2 linked regions of the Homo sapiens genome follow. The protein of the gene in region 2 interacts with the protein of the main gene of each other region in a biochemical or structural test. Each region holds a gene or a part of one and is shown on either strand. Other genes may lie near its edges. The genes, in order: UTS2B and UTS2R.

Region 1 (9,885 bases), on a different chromosome or scaffold from region 2:
CATTTTCTGTGTAATATTTGCAAAAACACTCTCTCGTATTGGAGCAGCTTTGCCATCTTTTGTGTCAAATGTGTGTCTACACTCAGATATTTTATATTCAAATATTTCCTTTATTAATATTAACTGTTCAAAGATAGAAACATTAAAAATATATGTGTTTTCTTTTAAAGCTATATCTGTTTTAAAACTAAGTATGAAAACAAGAAACAAAAGACTCATTTTCTATTGCTTTTTTTTAGCCAATATCTTACTTTAGAAATCAACTTTTTAAAATTCCTTGAGAAAAGTTTTTCTTCAGAGACTCCCATAAAAGAGGTTTTTTTCTTAAGAGATAGTGATAAGAAATTTCTGAGGACAAAGAGTTATGGAGGTATAATTATCGGAAGCAAAACTAATAAAGAAAGGCAAATCTATCAGTTTTGTTTTTTGAAAAATGTTTCACTTAACTATGCAGAGGAATGGATTGTGAATTAAGGGGAAAAAAGCTTTAGATCCATACTCTTCTAGTTACATTACTCTTAGTCATATACATTTTCTAAATTGAAGGTAATGGATCTGTTTCTCTTACCATAGTTGTCTTTCTGAAACAAGTAATTATTATCTGGCTCTGAAATATCCCTTCTTTTTTCAATGAAAACATTTTAAAGATTACAATTTAACATTTTTAATGAATGATTAAAATAAAAATTACATTATTTCATAATAATGTTTTTCTTTTAAACTAAACTATCTCTGAGAGTCTTTGTATAATTGATGCTGAGCAAAATTTGATATTCTGTTGGTATTTTAAATACTCAAAAGAAAATTTTACCAATAATTTTTATGTGTATGAAGCAAAGAAAATTGAAGAATTGAGCAACAATTAGGTATCTTTGGTTAATGTAGAAAACTGTGATCCTGTCACTTGCCCCAAATTATTCATTTTCTTCTTTTAATTAGCCATTTAAGTGTTTGAATTTATCAACTGACATTTTGTAGAGACAGGAAAGACAGGTAATTTTAAGAAATAGTCCAGTCAACTTATAAGCCATTTCTCTAGCTGAAACCACAGTACTCACTCCTAAACTTAAATCTCATTAATATTGCTTTTACTCACACTCTAACAGTTAATACAAAGAGGCAGGGAGAAGAAAAGATGATCTTACAGAAATTATGTGATAAAGGTTTGATTTTTCAGACCATCTCACTAAAGTTCATGGTAATATACTAATTATTATTTCAATTGAATTGTCAATGGATTTTTTTTGAATCTTCATGTTTTATAGCTTGCTAGAAGTCTCTTGTCTCAATTTCTACTCCAGAATGAAGATAATTACAGTACTGAGACATTTAGGGACCTGAGGAATGAATGGCTGTGAGGTAAATTGACAAAGATTAAAAGATGTTAATACGGAAGAGGTAGACACCATCCTAGCTTTGCCACAATCTTCCTTGGATGCTTTGAAGGAAATTCCCGGAACACAAACTGGCTTATATATATAAATGTGTATATAAATGTGTATATCAGATAAAATCACAAAATAGAATGCTATATTTTTATTTTGAAAACTACTTTTAGTTTATACTTATTTTAAATAAAATAGTAGAAAATTCCAGAAACACAGATTAAAAAGAAGAAAGTAAAATTCACCTCCAATTCTTCTACTCAGAAGTAATCACAGGTAAAACTTTAGGGTGCAACCTCCAGGTATATGCATATATTCTCTCTCTGTGTCTGTCTGACTGTCCATATTCATTCAATATATATTCAATAATTTCTTAAATTACCCATCCCTTCAGACTATACACTCTCTCTACATTTCTTTCGTTGTCAAATATACAAATTGATAGTAGCCTGTAAGACCAATTTAATTAGAAATATTTTCGGTGACTCAAATTGAAAATGGTGGTTTTTGATCATTATAGGAAATGAAATATTTCCAGATAAAAAATATACAAATCGTGAGGAACTATTGCTGGCTCTACTGAATAAAAATTTTGATTTCCAAAGACCTTTCAACACTGGTGAGTTAAACATAAAGTCAAGCTCTATTTATTAAAAAATAACAATTTATTTTGTCTTGAGACTTGCTTTTTCTAAATGTTAATTTATATTAAATGAAATAATTACTCTTTTATATGCTACACTAAAGATTTAAGTGATTTTTTTGTTTTATATTTATGTTAAATCCATGGAGTTATTAACAAATATTAATAGCCTATTTTGGTCAATTTGAGGGTCCTAATGGGATTGGTAAACATATAGTTAAAAAAAAAGGTTACCTTTATTCATATTTTCTTCTCATCTATGCAATTCTCCACTAGTACCACTAGTATTTTATTTTCTTAAATGTTTCAAAAGTATTATAGTTATAGGTTTCTTCTAGAAATTTCACAAATTAACTGCAGCTTTGTTGTAGTTAATTTAGCATTATTTTAATCAAATTCTTTCAATTTTAGGAAACAGTTGGAGTACAGATGATGAATGAAAAATTTAGGCTACACCAATTGAAATTATTTTTATTTGAAGAACAAGAGAATCTGACTTACAAATATCCATGAGATTGTCCTCCAAGAAATGACTGAGATTTTGTCAGAAATTTAACAAGTCTAGCTTAAGAGAAAATGTGACAATATGATACCGTGCTACTCTCCCATACAACATCTGAAGTAATCTAAACATGTCTGTATTCATAGAACAAAATGCTGGTTAAAAGAATAACTTAATAAATACTTTTAAAATTCAGGGTTTTTAAACTAAAAGTAATATATTCTTATTGAAAAATAAGTGAAATTTATAAAAACAAAAAATTTATACCCAAATTTTAAAACCTGGAGCAAGTTAGCCTTAGTATTTTGGAGAATTTTCTTCTCGATTGAATTATACATAGAATACATGGCTTGCTTCCCCCCGCCCACAACCCCATTTAATGTTGTTTTATGAGAATTTCCACATGCCAGCAAAAATAGTTTATTTCTAAATAATAGGTCATGCTAGAACTATGGTCTACGTTAGAAAAACTTTGTGCTAATTGTTGAAAATTACATATTTCAGATGACATAACTGATTGCATTTCAATACTATGGGCATTGAGAAATATACTGGAGGTTTTATATTAGGAATGGATGGGTGATGTCAAATCATATGAAAAAGACCTATGCTTTCTACGTAAGATCTTAAATGTGTGTACTGAAGCAAATTAAATATTACTTGCAATGTACGTTTTTTCATGTGACAAATGTGTCTTGCAGACCTAGCCTTACCTAACAAACTGGAAGAACTTAACCAGGTGAGAATGTGAAATACTTAAATGAGCAGTTTTAATAACAATTATAAGGAAATTTCTTCTTGACACAATGTTTTTTAAAATAAATTATTAATACTACAATGTAAAACTTTTATTCCTGCTAAACAAAGCGTGAAGCTGTTTTGTAGAAAAAGAAAAATCAAGTTATACTAACACAAAACAAAACAAAACTATGGCTGAAGTGATCATTCTTTATAATGTCTAGAAATCTGGATTCTAATTTTAGCTTTGCAATTACCAAACTGTGAAACCTGGGGCAAACAAATTCTCTAGACTGAAATCTCCTCATCTGTAGAATGGGAGGCTGTAAATAGATGGATGTTATTGTTTTTAAACAGTGGGAATCTTTTTTCCCCCAAATGTTATGTTTTCCCAGCAAATGAAACATGTAAAAGTCAAGCTGTTTGGCTTGAAGCAGCTGGTGTGAAGAGCCTAAAGTGCTGCCTTCTTGACGGGGACCCCTAGTAACACCCTTTTCTCCGTGCAATTCCATTATTCTGCAAACTGGCCCTTTGGGAGAGAGAACTATTCTCATCATTCTCTTCTGAGTAGCACCAACATGGAGATAAAGAGTGGTCCAGGCTGAACCCTACTTTTGTAGTTAGCTCTTCAGGGCCTAAGGCAATTAGTAACCTTATTAAAATTAAAAATTAAAATAAGTTGAATTCTGGATGGAAACCTTAAGGCCTCAAAATACTTTTTCCTTCCAGCTAGAAAAGACAAAAAATTCAGGAAATCCAAGTATTGACACAATAATTTGTAGCTCCTTGAAAAGACCTGCTCATTATAGGTGGCACAAAATGAAGTCCAAGTACACAGGCTGTATTTACATGTTCCCCATTAACACCCAGAGGTGACTTCCTTTGCCCAAAACCTGTTTCTTTCTGATCTTTTGTTGAGTCATGTACCTTTCCTAGTCAGCCCCTGAATGCATGCTCCCTGTTTTTCTTCTCTCTTTTTTGTTTTTTTCTTCCTTTGTTTCTATTTCCCCCTTTTTCTCTCTTCCTTTCTTTCATCCATTTTCTCTCTTTTTTTTTCTTTCTTTTTATCTTTCCTCTTCAACAGAGAGCAGCATGGTTTTTTTTTTGTTGTTTGTTTTTTGTTTTTTTGAGATGGAGTCTTGCTCTGTTGCCCTGGCAGAAGTACAGTGGTGCAATCTCGGCTCACTGCAGTCTCCACCTCCTGGGTTCACGCCATTCTCCTGCCTTAGCCTCCCGAGTAGCTGGGACTACAGGTGCCTGCTACCACGCCCAGCTAATTTTTTGTAGTTTTAGTAGAGGCGGAGTTTCACTGTGTTAGCCAGGATGGTCTTGATCGCCTGACCTCGTGACCTGCCTGCCTCGGCCTCCCGAAGTGCTGGGATTACAGGCATAAGCCACCGCGCCCGGTCAACAGCATGGTTTTATAGAAGACCAATTAATTATCATTTTACAATTTTATCAGCTGGAAAAGCTAAAAGAACAGCTAGTGGAGGAGAAGGATTCTGAGACGTCCTATGCTGTAGATGGTCTATTCTCTTCTCATCCTAGCAAACGAGGTAAGCTTTCATTTCAAGGTTTTAAGATTGACTTCCAAAAGATTATTTTTGCAGTAATTTCTGAGAGGAAGAAGATTCAGTTGGCATTTCTTAATCTTATGGTGGTGACCAATATAAAGGCTCATATTAAAAAAATATATTCCAATAAAAGTGTTACCATATAAATGTATTTGAGCTTTCTGGTGTTTACAACGGGGCAAGTTCACACTTCTCAGGTTTAAATAAAATAGGTCCTTATTGTATAAACTCTGGCTTACTCTTGCTATTTTGGCTTAAACACTGAAGCAGCAAAGACCACAAATAGAAATAATCCATTTTAAGTCAATTTAAAATTCCATAGAATCTATTCTGACATAAGGGGAAACTTCGTTGCTATAACACTTGTTCCAAGGTTCGATTCATAGCATTTAATTTTAGAAAGATTACTTTTTTGGATTATGCTTTTGGATAATTTTTCCTAGGAAATTATTGTTTCTTACTTTGTTTTTATTTTTGAAAAAAATGTATTCCTGTTTCTTTGTTCATGTAGTGATGAGAGATTTCCTAAGTCATATTTATTTTTACTTGTCCCCTATACCAGATTTGTCTTTAACTTCTGTAAAATCATATTTTAACAATATTATTGAGGGAAGAAGATGAACCAGTGTTAAGCCCTAAACATATACCAGACATTTTATATTTTAATGTCTCAAAATATAGTCATTAAGCATTCAGACTCTAGAGCTAGACTGCCTGGGTTCAAATTTTAACTTTGACTACCTACGCAACCTTGGAGAGTTATCTAATTTTCTCTGCCTCATTTTCTTTGCCTAAAAATGCGGATAATGATAATAATCTTCATGGGATTGTTGGGAGGAGTACATGAGTTAATTTAATTTAAAATAATTCCTAGTATGTAGTAAGTACTATGTAAGCTTAACTTAAAAAATTATTTTGATCATTATTACTACAATTATTTTCTACATGAATCCCATACAATAGCTATTAATATGACTTTTTTTATAGACGAGAAAACTGCATCTCAGAAGGGTTAAATTTAATGCTGAAAATAACCCAACTGCTAAGTGACTTAGCCAGTAAGGGTGAAGGATGAAGTGGCAGAAGATGAAGTGGAGGGTAGGAGGGAGGGAATTTAGTGGCTTTTTTTTTTTCTTTGAGACGGAGTTTCACTGCCCAGGCTGGAGTGCAATGGCACAATCTCGGCTCACTGCAACCTCTGTCTCTGGGGTTCAAGCAATTCTCCTGCCTCAGCCTCCCAAGTAGCTGGGATTACAGGCATGCACCATCACTCCCGGCTAAGTTTTGTATCTTTAGTGGAGATGGGTTTCACCATGTTGGTTAGGCTGGTCTGATTCTGGATATATTTCAAATAAAAGTCAACAAAATGTGCTGGAGAATTACACATGAAGTGTAAAAAATAGGCAGGTGTCAAAAATTACTCCAAGGATTTTGTTTTGAGCAACTAGGAACAAAGGACAGTTTCTGTTTATTGAGCCAAGGATAACTGGAGGAGAAGAAAGTACAAGAGAAAGGTTGAAATAGAGATTTGTTGGACCTTTCCTGAATCAGTATAGCTTAGGCTATTAGGTGTTAACAGTTGTAATCTAAATCTCAGAGGCATGGTGTAATAAAGTCGGGAATCGAGTCCAATGCTTGCAGCACAGCACAGCACCACTCTATTCTGTAGCCCTATCATCCAGAACGTTGATACAGCTTAACTGCCTCCAACATTGCCAAAACAGAAGAGGATAAAGGATACATCCCAGCTTTCAATTGCCTCAGTTCGGAAGGGACACACATCATTTCTACTGAAGTCCATTGGCCGGGATTAGTCACTGGGACTACCACCAACATATGGCAAGGCAGGTTGGTAAATGTAAGGAAGTACCTATAGTACTTGGTGAGCACTGCCTCTATCATAGTCTATCCTTTATCTCTTCTTAAAAACATAGACTATACTCAACTCATTCTCATTAGAGACAACCCCAAATCTCTTCTAGTGACTGCATGCAGCACAAATAACAGGCTTTCCAGGATATATTTACTAGTCTTCATCAGATATAATGTGGCCACTCCTTTTTTTTGAGACGGAGTCTCGCTCTGTAGCCCAGGCTGGAGTGCAGTGGTGCGATCTCGGCTCACTGCAACCTCTGCCTCCCAGGTTCCAGCTATTCACCTGCCTCAGCCTCCCGAGTAGATGGGACTACAGGTGGGCGCCACCAAGCCCAGCTAATTTTTTTGTATTTTTAGTAGAGATGGGGGTTTCATCATGTTGGCCAGGCTGGTTTCAAACTCCTGACCTCAGGTGATCCACCTGCCTTGAGCTCTCAAAGTGCTGGGATTACAGACATGAGGCACTGTGCCCTGCCCATTTTTTTTTTTTTTTTTTAGACGGAGTTTTGCTCTTGTTGCCTAGGCTGGAGTGCAATGGCACGCTACCTCGGCTCACTGCAACCTTCGCCTTTTGGGTTCAAGCTATTCTCCTGCCTCAGCCTCCCAAGTAGCTAGGATAACAGGCACGCACCACCACGCCCAGCTAATTTTTTGTATTTTCAGTAGAGACAGGTTTCACCATATTGGCCAGGCTGTTCTCGAACTCCTGACCTCAGGTGATCCACCCGCTTCTGCCTCCCAAAGTGCTGGGATTACAGGCATGAGCCACCATGCCCAGCCAAGCTACTCTTCATTCACAGACCTATTAACTGAAAAGATGAGTTATTATTCACCCCATACATATCCAACAATTAGCAAAGGAACAGGGAAAGGATAATCGCAATCAACAGCAAACTAAATATACTGCTTGCCAATTTACTCTTTTCCAGCCTTTCTTCTAGGAGCTCTAGGCACATGATCTGAATCCCAAGCTGTTGCAGATGCGAGTTTTAGCACTTATTTTGCCATTTAATAAAATAACTCTTAATTTTTCAAACCTATGATATCAGTTTCCTTGTCTGCCATTAATGAGTTGCTGATACTGTGTCAGATTTTAGGTATGTTTTACAGCAGCACCCTCACTTCACGTTATCAAACTGTATATTGGGATATGCTTAGCAAGCTGATAAAATAGCCTTTAAATCTCAGTGATGCAACTTTCTATAATTTTGACCGAGTTTACATGAGGTCTTACATATGTTGACCATTTTTCCTTCACTTCATGCATACACTATGTGGAACACGTGGTCTCCAATGTACCTATAGTAGGATAGGAAAGAGATGAAGCAGGTAAATATGCTTTTAACTGCCAGAGCTATGCACATGATCCCAATTTAACTTAATGGGGATGTGGGATCCCTAGGAAATACAGAGAAGTCTTAGGAATAGCTGAAGAGTTGTATTCCTACCACATATTTTGGGTTTGTTATGCCATATTTAATAAATCTTCCAGGAGTAAATTGAGTAGAAGATTAGATGTATGAATCTGAAGTTAGTGAATATGAATCTTATATCTTCAGTCAGCCCAGATTAGAGATATACATTTGGCAGTTATCAGCATTATAAATATTGTTTGGCATTGTGACGAGAGCATCTAAGGAGTGACTCCAAATATAAGGAAAAGATACCTAAAAACTGAGACTCAGATCATTCCAAGGGAAGAAACTGAGCAGATGAGGCAGAGTCAACAAAAGAGGCTGAGTAGGAGTAGGTACAAAGAAGGAGGCAAGAAAGCAACACCCACAAGTCAAGTAAAAAAACTGTTTCTGGGAAAAAGGAGTTTAAGTCTATCCAAAGCTATTGTTACCAAAACACCAGGGGTTCAGTCTAGGTCCTACAGCTCACTGCACAGAAAGCTGATCACTGAGACAAGTATTGCCAAGGAAGAAGGCTTTAATTGGGTGCTGCAGCTGAGGAGATGGAAGCTCAGTCTCAAATCCATCTCTCTAACTCACTAAAACTAGGGTTAATATAGCAGGGAAGAAATGTAACTACGTGTGAGAAAGGCAAGGAAGCAATCATAATGAATGAGTGGTCCAATATCTCATTGTCTGGATGGGGTGATCTGGTGAGTTTCAGTTCTTTGATACCTCTTTTTTTTTTTTTTTTTTTTTTTTTTGAGAGAGTCTCACTCTGTCACCAGGCTGGAGTGCAGTGGTGTGATCTCTGCTCACTGCAACCTCTGCCTCCCGTGTTCAAGCGATTCTTCTGCCTCAGCCACCCAAGTAGCTGGGACTACAGGCATGTGGCCACCACCCTCAGCTAATTTTTGTATTTTTAGTAGAGACAGGATTTCACCATGTTGGTCAGAATGGTCTCGATCTCCTGACCTCATGTCTGCCAGCCTCGTCCTCCCAAAGTGCTGGGATTACAGGCATGAGCCACCACAACTGGCCCTTTGACAGTTTTTTTTGGGAGGCCTAAAGGTCATTTCCTGAGGAAGAAACTCACCTAAAACAAATACAAGCTTTAAGCTTTAACAGCAGAAGGGTCAATTTCTGATTATCCAAAAACAACTCTCTATGGGTCTATGGGGCTGATTTCACTATGATAGATCCAGTAAAATGAGGACTGAGAACTTCCAGTTGAATTCAGCAGAGGAAAGGTCATTAATGGCCTTGCCAAGGATTGTTTGGTGAACTTTTTGTTAAAGAAAACATGACTATAGAACTGGAACCACTGACAATAGAAAATTCTCTTAAAGAATTTTGTGCTAAGGAATAGAAAAAAAATTGGTATATCAGCTAGAATGATTTGAAAGCATAAAAAAAAAACCTTTTTTGTTTATTTTTAAGAAAGTAGATATTACAACATGTTTGTAGGTCAGGTACCAGTGGCTCACACCTGCAATCCCACTACTTTGGGAGGCCAAGGCAGGAGAATCACTTGTGCCCAATCGTCTGAGACCAGCCTGGCCAATATAGGGAGGCTGTGTCTCTACAACAAATTTAAAAAATTAGCCTGGTGTGGTGACCCATGCTAGTAGTCCCAAGTACTCATGAGATTGAGACTGGAGGGTCCCTTGAGCCAAGGAGTTCGAGGTTGCAGTGAGCTATGGTTGTGCCACTGCACTCCAGCTTCGGTGACAAAGCTGAACATAATCCACGTTATACATGAAGTGCAGTGCTG
Region 2 (10,236 bases):
TTGGTTTGATTCATGTTACCATCTCTCCAGCTGTGTCTCATATCTGGAGGTGTTTGAGACCAAGACTGGGGAAATTGTGGTGCCTGAGGTCAAAAGTAAAGGAAAATACCAACAGCAGCATCAAGGGAAGTGTCTCCTGGAAGAGTAAAGTGAAATCACCAGCTGCAGAGGTGCTCTGGGAGAGGTGGGAGGCCCTGCAGGGGTGTCCCCCTGGGACCTCCTTCCAAAAGAAAGAGCCCTCAGCTCTGGGTAATGAAGTGGGCCCACGCTCCCTGGGCAGGATCCCAGGCAGCTGATGGCTGATGGCTGAGCTCTAGTTGGGGCTTTGAGGGCCTGGCCGTTTCTGCACGGCCCAGTCTTTGCTCCTCATGAGGTTCCCTAACTCCATCTGGGGTGCACTCAGCCTGAGCTGCCTCCACCCCTCACTTTTATTCCCTTATTTATTTTTATTTTTATTTTCTTTTTATAGAGACAGGGTCTCACTATGTTGCTCGGGCTGGCCTTGAACTCCTGGGCTCAAGCGATCCTCCCACCTCAGCCTCCCAAAGTGTTAGGATTACAGATATGAGCCACTGCGCTCGGCCACGTTCCCTTATTTTCATCAAGCATCTCTGCCCCAGTGTCTGCGGCAGGATGGGCCTCTGGTCTCTAAGCACCTGAGAGGTGGAGTGGGTTCTGAACAAAGCATCCTCTTCAAGTCTGAAAAACACAAACATCAGGCTGGATGGGCACCTGAAAAGAGCCCCATGAAACCAGCTCTGTCTGTGGAACCTCATTTTCTACAGAATTTAGTAATCCAATTGGAAAGTACTTCTTTCACAAAAATTATCATTGCAAAACATAATGAACCCATTAAGTGCAGAGCAAAGCTTCAAAAGTCACATTTGTGGAAAATGGGAGCTTTATGATTATGATTTATGATTTAATGGTCCATAAAGTGAATCATAGGCAGGCAGAGCCACTTTGCACTAAAGCGCTGGGATTACAGGTGTGAGCCACCGCGCCCGGCCTGAAATGTGAATTCTTACACAACAACAAAGAGCTTTCCAACTGTGTAATTTCACTCACCCTTCTCCAGAGACCTGGTGCTATTGTTGTCTTGGATATTAGTTGACACGTGTTATCATCATCATGCGCCACCAGAGCTATTGCTGCATAGTCCTCATCTTTTTAATTTACAAACATATTTACCTTCCTGGTGCACTTCATTTTTCCATGCACTTCCGAGTTTCTATCTGGGGTCATTTTCTGTCAGCAGAAGGAAAGCCTGAGGAGCTCCTTTAGTATTTTTTTGTGCTGTGACAAATGTTCTTAGCTTTGTCTGAAAGTATCTATATTTTATTGTACATAAATTGTTGGTTAAAATTCTTTATTTTGGTACTTTAAAGAGGTCATTCTCTTTCGGTTTCCATGGTTTTCTGAGGAGATCTAGTCATCTTTCCTATTGTTATTCCCTGAATGCATTGTCTTTTTTTTTTTTTTAATCTCAATAATTTTTACAGTTTCTGTTTACCTTTGGTTTTTGGAATTTTTTACTACAATGCGCTGGAGTTGTTTGCTTTTAGTTTTTTCCTGCTTGTGATTTACTAAGATTCTAATGTCTGTAAGTTGACATTGCTTATCAATTTTGAAAATTTCAGCCACTGCCTTTTCAGATATTGCTCCTGCCCCATTTTCCTCTGTTGTTGATCTGGGGACTCCAGTGACATGTACGTCAGATCATTTGATGGTGTGGTTCCACAGGCTTTTCTGTTTTTCATTCTTTTCTCTTTCTGTGTCTGGATAATTTCTATTGACCTACCTTTAAGTTAACTGATTCTTTCTTCTGCTGTGATTTCTGAATTTTAGATACTGTACTTTTAAAAGTTATAAAATGTCCATTTGACCCTTGTGAGAAAGAAACTCATCCGTCCAAATCCAAAGAACTGACTCAGGGACCTGGAGAACAGCGAAAGCGAGGCTTTTAATGACGGCAAGATCGGGTGTCTGGTGGGCAGGCACACCCAGCAGTTTCAACAAGCAATTTATCCCCTAGTGCACAGATCCCTCCCCCGGTTCCTCATAGGCTGAGTACTCTGGGGTCACAGTCTTCCCGCATGTCGCCTATTGGTTGTTGGGCAGGGGCTGTAGGGCACAGGTCCCTCCCCAGCTTCCTCATAGGCTGAGTACTAGGGGATCACAGTCTTCCTGCATGTCGCCTATTGGTTGTTGGGCAGGGGCTGCAGGGTGCAGGTCCCTCCCCAGGTTCCTCATAGGCTGAGTACTCTCGGGTCACAATCTTCCCGGATGTCGCCTATTGGTTGTTGGGCAGGTGCTGTAGGTGTTTTCTTCAGGGTTGTCCTGCTGCATTTTGTTGCAGCCCACAATGCATTGCAATCCTAGTTAGCTCAGGGGCTCTTTAAGTATTTGACTTATGACCTAAGTAGCTGGGCAGGCTGATAAGAATAGATCAAACCAGCTATTTTGCAGGCTAGTAAAATTTCATCTTAAACTTCTTTGATTTGGGTGAGGGCAACTAAGAGGGGGTTAAAAGGGAGTGGATGAGGCCGACAAGCAGGCATCCACTATCCAAGCTGGGGCCTAGTATATCCTGTTCTTCTGTAGTTTGCTGACCTAAGCCGATTCAAGGCACACTGTCTTGGAAATGGACCACTGTATACATTATTTCCTTCACCCTTTAAAAAATTTTTTTAGAAATAGAAATGGAGGGTCTCATTATGTGCCCAGGCTGGTCTCAAACTTCTAGACTCGAGTGATCATCCTGCCTCAGTTTTCAAAAGTACTGGGATTGGCCGGGTGCGGTGGCTCATGCCTGTAATCCTAGCACTTTGGGAGGCCGAGGTGGGCAGATCACGAGGTCAGGAGTTCAAGACCAGCCTGGCCAAGATAGTGAAAGCCCATCTCTACTAAAAATACAAAAATTAGGCTGAGAGCGGTGGTGGGCACCTGTAATCCCAGCACTTTGGGAGGCCGAGGCGGGCGGATCACGAGGTCAGGAGATCGAGACCATCCTGGCTAACACAGTGAAACCCCGTCTCTACTAAAAATACAAAAAATTAGCCAGGCACGGTGGTGGGCACCTGTAGTCCCAGCTACTCGGGAGGCTGAGGCAGGAGAATGGCATGAACCCGGGAGGCAGAGCTTGCAGTGAGCCGAGATTGCGCCACTGCACTCCAGCCTGGGCGACCAGCGAGACTCTGTCTCAAAAAAAAAAAAAAAAATACAAAAATTAGTTGGGTGTGGTGGTGGGCACCTGTAATCCCAGTCACTCGGGAGGCTGAGGCAGAGAATTGCTTGAACCTGGGAGGCGGAGGTTGCAGTGAGTCAAGATCACGCCACTGCACTCCAGCCTGGGCGACAGAGTGAGACTCCATCTCAAAAAAAAAAAAAAAAAAAAAAGTGCTGGGATTACAGGTGTTAGCCACAGTGCCCAGCCTGGGAATTTCTAATAAAAGAGTCAAATGGGGTTGGGCGTAGTGGCTGGGCAACATGGTGAAACTTGTCTCTACAAAAAATACAAAAATTAGCCAAGTGTAGTGTAGCGGTGCATGTCTGTAGTCCCAGCTACTCGGGAGGTAGGAGAATTGCTTGAGTGTAGGAAGTCAAAGAAAGCTGCGGTGAGCCATGATCACACCCCTGCACTCCAGCCTGGGCGAGCCTAGGCTAGACCTTAGAGCGAGACCCTGTCTCAAATAAAGAAAGAAATACATTCCCATTTTCTGGTGAAAATTTCCATCTTTTCATGCATGTTGCCCAGGTTCTTCTGCTTGCTTTACTATATTTGTAACAGTTTTTGTAAAACAGAAACTCCTGGTCTGCTAATTCCAATACTTGTGTCACATATGGACCTGCTTCTATCGGCTATTTTTCCCCCATCAATTATGGATCACATAAGATATGAAGCAGCAAGGAAACAATAATCAGATTATTATTTCCTTGCTGAAGCATTTTATACATAGCAACTGTCAAAGTCCAAATATACAGACAAATCTTTAAGTTTAATGTTTAATTTTAGGAAGAATTTCAATTCGGTATGTTCAAGAACAAAAGAAAATCGGGATTCTTTTGGAAAGAGAAACGTTATCTATTGCTTTGAAAGAAAGCCCGTTGGCACTGGTAGTTCGGGGGAGCTGGCAAGCTCAGGCGAGTGGCCTCAGTGGTAAAACCAGCACTGGAGGCCAGGCACGGTGGCTCACGCCTGTAATCCTAGCACTTTGGGAGGCTGAGGTGGGCAGATCACCTGAGCTCAGGAGTTCGAGACCTACCCGGCCAACATGATGAAACCCCGTCTACTACAAACACAAAAATTAGCTGGGTGTGGTGGCGGGTGCCTGTAATCCCAGCTACTTGGGAGGCTGAGGCAGGAGAATTGCTTGAGCCTGGGAGGTGGAGGTTGCAGTGAGCCGAGGTTGCAGTGAGCCGAGATCGCACCACTGCACTCCAGCCCGGGTGAAAGAGTGAGACCCCATCTCAAAAAAATAAATAAATAAATAATAAAAAAATAAAATAAAAAATAAAAAACCCGGTGTTCGTGTCAGGGCAGGTCGTTTCAGCAGCTACTCGGTGAACTGGCTGAGGTGACAGCAGATCGTTTCGGCAGCTGGCTTGCGGGAAATTTAATTCTTGGAGCAGGCATTCTGGGTCCTGAGTGCTTTTCCCCAGCCCTAGCCCCTAGACTCCAGCTTAGTAATCAGCTCTCACAGAACCATCACGTCGGAGGCAGCCTTCCACCCCCTTTCCTCCCGCGCACAGGCAGGATGAGCTGCTCCCCTTTCGGGTCGGAAGCTGCAGCTGTATTTGGTTTCAGTTCGGCTGTTTTCAGCTCACAGAGAATGAACTGTCTTATTGTGTGACCCTTGCTCCGTCCAGCGGACGCTCGGAGACCAGAGGGACTTTTCCCGCCCTCTCCAGCCCAGCCTCGCCTCCCCAGCACGTGGCAAACGTCCCACGGAGGGGACTGGTGGGCATCTGGGGCTCCCCCGGATCCAGCTGATTGCAGGAGCCTCTCGGCCATTCACACTTGGCCACCTCCTCTCCCCCAGCAGAACCCCTTCAGCTTTAGGGGCCGGTCCGCGGCCTCAGGCAGCAGATGAGCCCCGGGCGGAGTGGAGTGGGCGAGGCCAGCTCCTCGCTGGGGGCCCTTTAGACCCCGTGTTCACAGCTCTCCAGCTCTCCTCTAGTCTAATTTATTAATGTTCTGTGTCTTTTTCTTTCAGGGGTTCAGCATGAGTGAAGGCCCACATCCTACCTCCGAGCAGCAAGTGAAACCGAGTGGGGGCCAGCACCCAGCTCAGGGGCTCGAGGGTGAGGCTGTGGGGTCCTTCCTCCTACCCCGCGGGGCCCTGCAGCTCCCAGCGTCACTTCCGTGGATGTGGCCACCACGAGTCCCTGCCGAGGCCTGGAGAGGCTGCGTGGGCTTCTAAGAGCATCTGTGGGAGACCCGCAACAGGGGCGGGGTCAAGGCCCCCAAAGAGCCCGTCCCCGCCTGGGCGGGTGACTCCCTCCCTCCCTTACCTCCTTTCTATGACCCTCTCGGGGTTTAGGGGTGTTCCTGCCCCCCACCTGCGCGCGGGCGGGTCCAGGGCTTGGTGGACACGGAGAATCCCAGGCTCCGTGCCCTGCAAACACGGGCGTGAGGGGCGCAGGGGTGAACGCTGGAGGCGGAGAACCCAAGAGGGGCTGCGGGGTCAGCCTTGGGGCAGCCGGGCTGGAGGCAGCTTCGCTCCGCAGACGCAGACGCGAGACCCGCCTGGGACCCTCCGCCGACCCCGCTGCGGCCCCGCGACCCCCGCGTCTTCCCGGCGCCGCGCGGTCAGCGCCGCCCCCTAGACACCCGGCGCCGTCCCCTCCGCGCGCCTGCTGCCCGCTGGGGTTATTTTAATACCGGGCCCTGGCGCGGGGCGCGGCGCATTCCCAGCTGGCGGCGGGCAGGTGGCGGCGGCGCAGAGACCCGGCGCGGGGCGGGGGGCGCGGCTTTGGTGGCGGGACTGGCGGGCGCCCCTGCCGTGTGCTCTGGAAGCCGAGGCCACCGCGGAGCCCCTCGCGCCCCCTCTGCGCTGGGACAGGGGAGCGCGCCTCGGAAAGTTCCCCGCGGCCCCGCTGCGCGAGGAGTTTGGAGCCGCGAGCGGCTGCCCCCACGCGCGACCCCAGGCTCGGCGGGCAGGTCTGGCCGCTCAGTGACCGGAGGCAGGTGGGTCCTCGGTGGGTGACCGGGAGCGCGCGGGGACTGCCGGGTCTGTGCCCTTCGGGGCCCTCCGCAGGGCTGGGCCGGGGTTTCGCGGTGGGAACCCACCCTGGGCGAGGGGAGCGGGGTCCAGCGAGGCGGCTTCTCCCGTGCCGTGGAACTTTCGGCCCCTCCCCTTCCCCCCTAGCGACCCTGGAGCAATCCTAGCGGCCCGGCGGCCGCTGTCCCCCTGCCCGTGACTCGGGCTCGCGCACAACTGGGGAGCCCGGTGCACCCTCGGCTTCTGCGCCGTCCCCTGGGTGAGGGCTCTGGAAATGCCCTGGGTGGGGGCAGCAAGGGGGTGAGGGTCCCCTGGACAGATGGAGCTGGGAGCTGCTCGGCCTGGTGGGAAAGGGCGGACAGGGCACATTTCCAGGCCCTGGAAGGCCCCCAGCGCCCCCACCTGTTGACAACTCCCCACCCCAGCCAAGACTGCTCCCTGCGCAGCCATGAGTGTTCGGCCTAAATTCAGCGTGGCTCGTGGAATCAGGCAGCCTCCTGTGTCTTGTTTCTTCAGCCCACCACCGCGCTGTTTCATCCAGGCTGCTGACCCCAGCGGCGACTCCTTCACTGGCTTCATGTCACAGTTTGCCTGCCCCGTCCACTGGGGACATTTGAGCTGTTTCCAGCTTCTTAGGAGTCAAGCTGCCGTGAACTTTCGCACGCTTGTCATTTTCTGAACGTTGGCAGCCCTTTATCTAAGGTACTAACCTGAGAGTAGAATTGCCGGGTGAGAAGGTATAGGCGGTCAACTCTGCAAATCGTGCCAATGGCTTTCCAAAGCGGCGGCACAGTCCAGGTTCCCAGCAACAGGAAACGGCAGGGCCAGCTCCTCCACAGCCCCCACGCCTGTTGACAAGGATATCTGCCTTTTCACGCGTTCATCCTTGTCAGCACGCAGGGGCTCCTGTGGCCCTGACTGGCATTTCCCTGCTTGTTGGCTGCGTGGGTGTCCTTTTCAGGAAGTCCCCGGTCACGGTTTTGGTCTCTTTTTTTCAAATGGGTTGTTTGTCTTTTCCTTACTAATTTGCAGTTCTTCCCTATATTTTTCTTACCAGCTTTTTGTCTATGTTTCTTCTTTTTTTTTTTCTCTGAGACAAAGTCTCACTTTGTTGCCCAGGCTGGAGTGCGGTGGCACAATCTCAATCTTGGCTCACTGCAACTTCCACCTCCCGAGTTCAAACAATTCTCCTGCCTCAGCCTCCCGAGCAGCTGGGATTACAGGCGTGTGCCACCATGCCCGACTAATTTTTGTATTTTTAGTAGAGACGGGGTTTCGAGATGTTGGCCAGGCCGGTTTCGAACTCCTGACCTCAGGTGATCCACTTGCCTAGGCCTCCTAAAGTGCTGGGATTACAGGCGTGAGCCACTGCAACTGGCCTGATATATGTTTTCTGATGATCTCCTAGCCTGTGGCTTATGATTTCGCTCTCTTGGTAAAGTTCTTAATTTTAATGAAACCCATTTGCTTAGTCTTTTATTGAAAGTATTTTTTGTTCATTTTTAAGAAATATTTTCCCATCCAAGGTTATGCCAGTATTCCCGTTTTCTTCCAGAACCTCGACTGACTGATTTAACCTTTCACACTTAGGCCTGCAATCCATCTTGAATTCGTTTCCCTGTATGAGAAATGGAGATTGCAGAGGCCTTCCTCTCCTTACATGTTCTTCTATTTGGACTTTTAAAGTCAGTAGCTACTAGTTTTGCAATCTAAAGAAAACATTTTTTTAAATGTACAAGTCAAATAAATACGAGAAAGGACTCAGGAGTAAGTGGGCCCCACCTGTGCACAGACAAGAAAGTGAGGCCTGGGGGGGCGCAATGGGCAGAGCCCAGGACTCCCAGTTCTGTCCACTGCCGACCTCTGCCCCAGGGGCTGCCCTCCTGTGTTCCGGCTTTCAGAAAAGCCCAGTTCATCCCAGAGGCCATGGGACCTACAGTGAGGGGGGGGCAGGGGTCCTGCTGGGGCATGCGGGGGTCGGGGAGGGGGGTTGGGGCAGCTCGTCTGGTGGCTCTTGAGTCCTCCTGCAGAGCTGGTGGCTTCCAGAGAGTCCCGAGAGTTGGAGGGCACTGGGGAGCCCACGTGACTCTGTGGGAACGAGGCCATCACAGTGGCCTCCTGGGAGCGGAAGGTGTTGCCTGATTTGCTTCTTTCCCCACAGGCTGAGCTGGTTGCCCACAGGGGCCCCCGCCCCATCTCAGGGAGTGTCCACCCAGCCCTGAGCCCGTCGTGAGGGGTCAGAGATGGCGCTGACCCCCGAGTCCCCGAGCAGCTTCCCTGGGCTGGCCGCCACTGGCAGCTCTGTGCCGGAGCCGCCTGGCGGCCCCAACGCAACCCTCAACAGCTCCTGGGCCAGCCCGACCGAGCCCAGCTCCCTGGAGGACCTGGTGGCCACGGGCACCATTGGGACTCTGCTGTCGGCCATGGGCGTGGTGGGCGTGGTGGGCAACGCCTACACGCTGGTGGTCACCTGCCGCTCCCTGCGTGCGGTGGCCTCCATGTACGTCTACGTGGTCAACCTGGCGCTGGCCGACCTGCTGTACCTGCTCAGCATCCCCTTCATCGTGGCCACCTACGTCACCAAGGAGTGGCACTTCGGGGACGTGGGCTGCCGCGTGCTCTTCGGCCTGGACTTCCTGACCATGCACGCCAGCATCTTCACGCTGACCGTCATGAGCAGCGAGCGCTACGCTGCGGTGCTGCGGCCGCTGGACACCGTGCAGCGCCCCAAGGGCTACCGCAAGCTGCTGGCGCTGGGCACCTGGCTGCTGGCGCTGCTGCTGACGCTGCCCGTGATGCTGGCCATGCGGCTGGTGCGCCGGGGTCCCAAGAGCCTGTGCCTGCCCGCCTGGGGCCCGCGCGCCCACCGCGCCTACCTGACGCTGCTCTTCGCCACCAGCATCGCGGGGCCCGGGCTGCTCATCGGGCTGCTCTACGCGCGCCTGGCCCGCGCCTACCGCCGCTCGCAGCGCGCCTCCTTCAAGCGGGCCCGGCGGCCGGGGGCGCGCGCGCTGCGCCTGGTGCTGGGCATCGTGCTGCTCTTCTGGGCCTGCTTCCTGCCCTTCTGGCTGTGGCAGCTGCTCGCCCAGTACCACCAGGCCCCGCTGGCGCCGCGGACGGCGCGCATCGTCAACTACCTGACCACCTGCCTCACCTACGGCAACAGCTGCGCCAACCCCTTCCTCTACACGCTGCTCACCAGGAACTACCGCGACCACCTGCGCGGCCGCGTGCGGGGCCCGGGCAGCGGGGGAGGCCGGGGGCCCGTTCCCTCCCTGCAGCCCCGCGCCCGCTTCCAGCGCTGTTCGGGCCGCTCCCTGTCTTCCTGCAGCCCACAGCCCACTGACAGCCTCGTGCTGGCCCCAGCGGCCCCGGCCCGACCTGCGCCCGAGGGTCCCAGGGCCCCGGCGTGAGCACGCGGAGGGGCGGCTGGAGTCCAGGCGGGGACGCGCCCCAAAGCCCCAGCCACTCCCGGGAGCCCCCCCAACTCCCAAATCACAGGCCCTGCCCCTCCTCCGTCCCCTTCTGGAAAGATCCTGCTCGCTTCCCCTCAGCGCCCTTCCCGTGATGCCCAGAAGCGCCCACCCGCCTCCCTGAGGGTCTCCAGGAGGCTCCAGCGCAGTCCCGGCTTCTGGAGACCATGGCTTCGTCACAGAGGGCAGCAGGCGCCAGTGCCCGGCCCGTGTGGAGACCATGGCGCGGCTGCCGCCCCCGGGACCCTCCTCCTCTCAGCCAGCGGCCCTGTGACTCCTGTTCCTGCCTGTGTGGCTCCATCCCTTGTGGCTTTGCCACTGGAACAATCAACCCTGAGCTGGCTTCCGTGTCCTGCCTAGGCGCGGGGGACGCCACATCTGAGGTGTGGGAGGATCGGCCGGCAGGATCCCCAGGACGACAACGGCAGCTCAAGGGGGAGCCTGTGGGTCTGGCTGGGGTAGAGGGTGCACCTGCCTTTGAGGCCTGTGCAGGCGGCTGGTCTGGCACCTGATGTGGGGCAGGGAAGGTGGCCAGGAGG

Evidence for each region.
Region 1: the proteins of UTS2R (region 2) and UTS2B form a complex in vitro, tested with the Homo sapiens proteins (one study listed by BioGRID).

What each region holds. Positions count from the first base shown.
Region 1 is NC_000003.12:191,270,191-191,280,075, reverse strand, and holds part of UTS2B (urotensin-2B precursor), read left to right. Parts: intron 1-1,905; coding exon 1,906-2,004; intron 2,005-3,231; coding exon 3,232-3,269; intron 3,270-4,730; coding exon 4,731-4,824; intron 4,825-6,511; coding exon of another isoform or gene 6,512-6,576; exon of another isoform or gene 6,577-6,945; intron 6,946-9,885. UniProt on the Homo sapiens protein: Potent vasoconstrictor.
Region 2 is NC_000017.11:82,365,858-82,376,093, forward strand, and holds the start of UTS2R (urotensin-2 receptor), read left to right. Parts: upstream 1-5,907; 5' UTR 5,908-6,190; intron 6,191-6,740; 5' UTR 6,741-6,926; intron 6,927-8,385; 5' UTR 8,386-8,467; coding exon 8,468-9,637; 3' UTR 9,638-10,236. UniProt on the Homo sapiens protein: High affinity receptor for urotensin-2 and urotensin-2B. The activity of this receptor is mediated by a G-protein that activate a phosphatidylinositol-calcium second messenger system.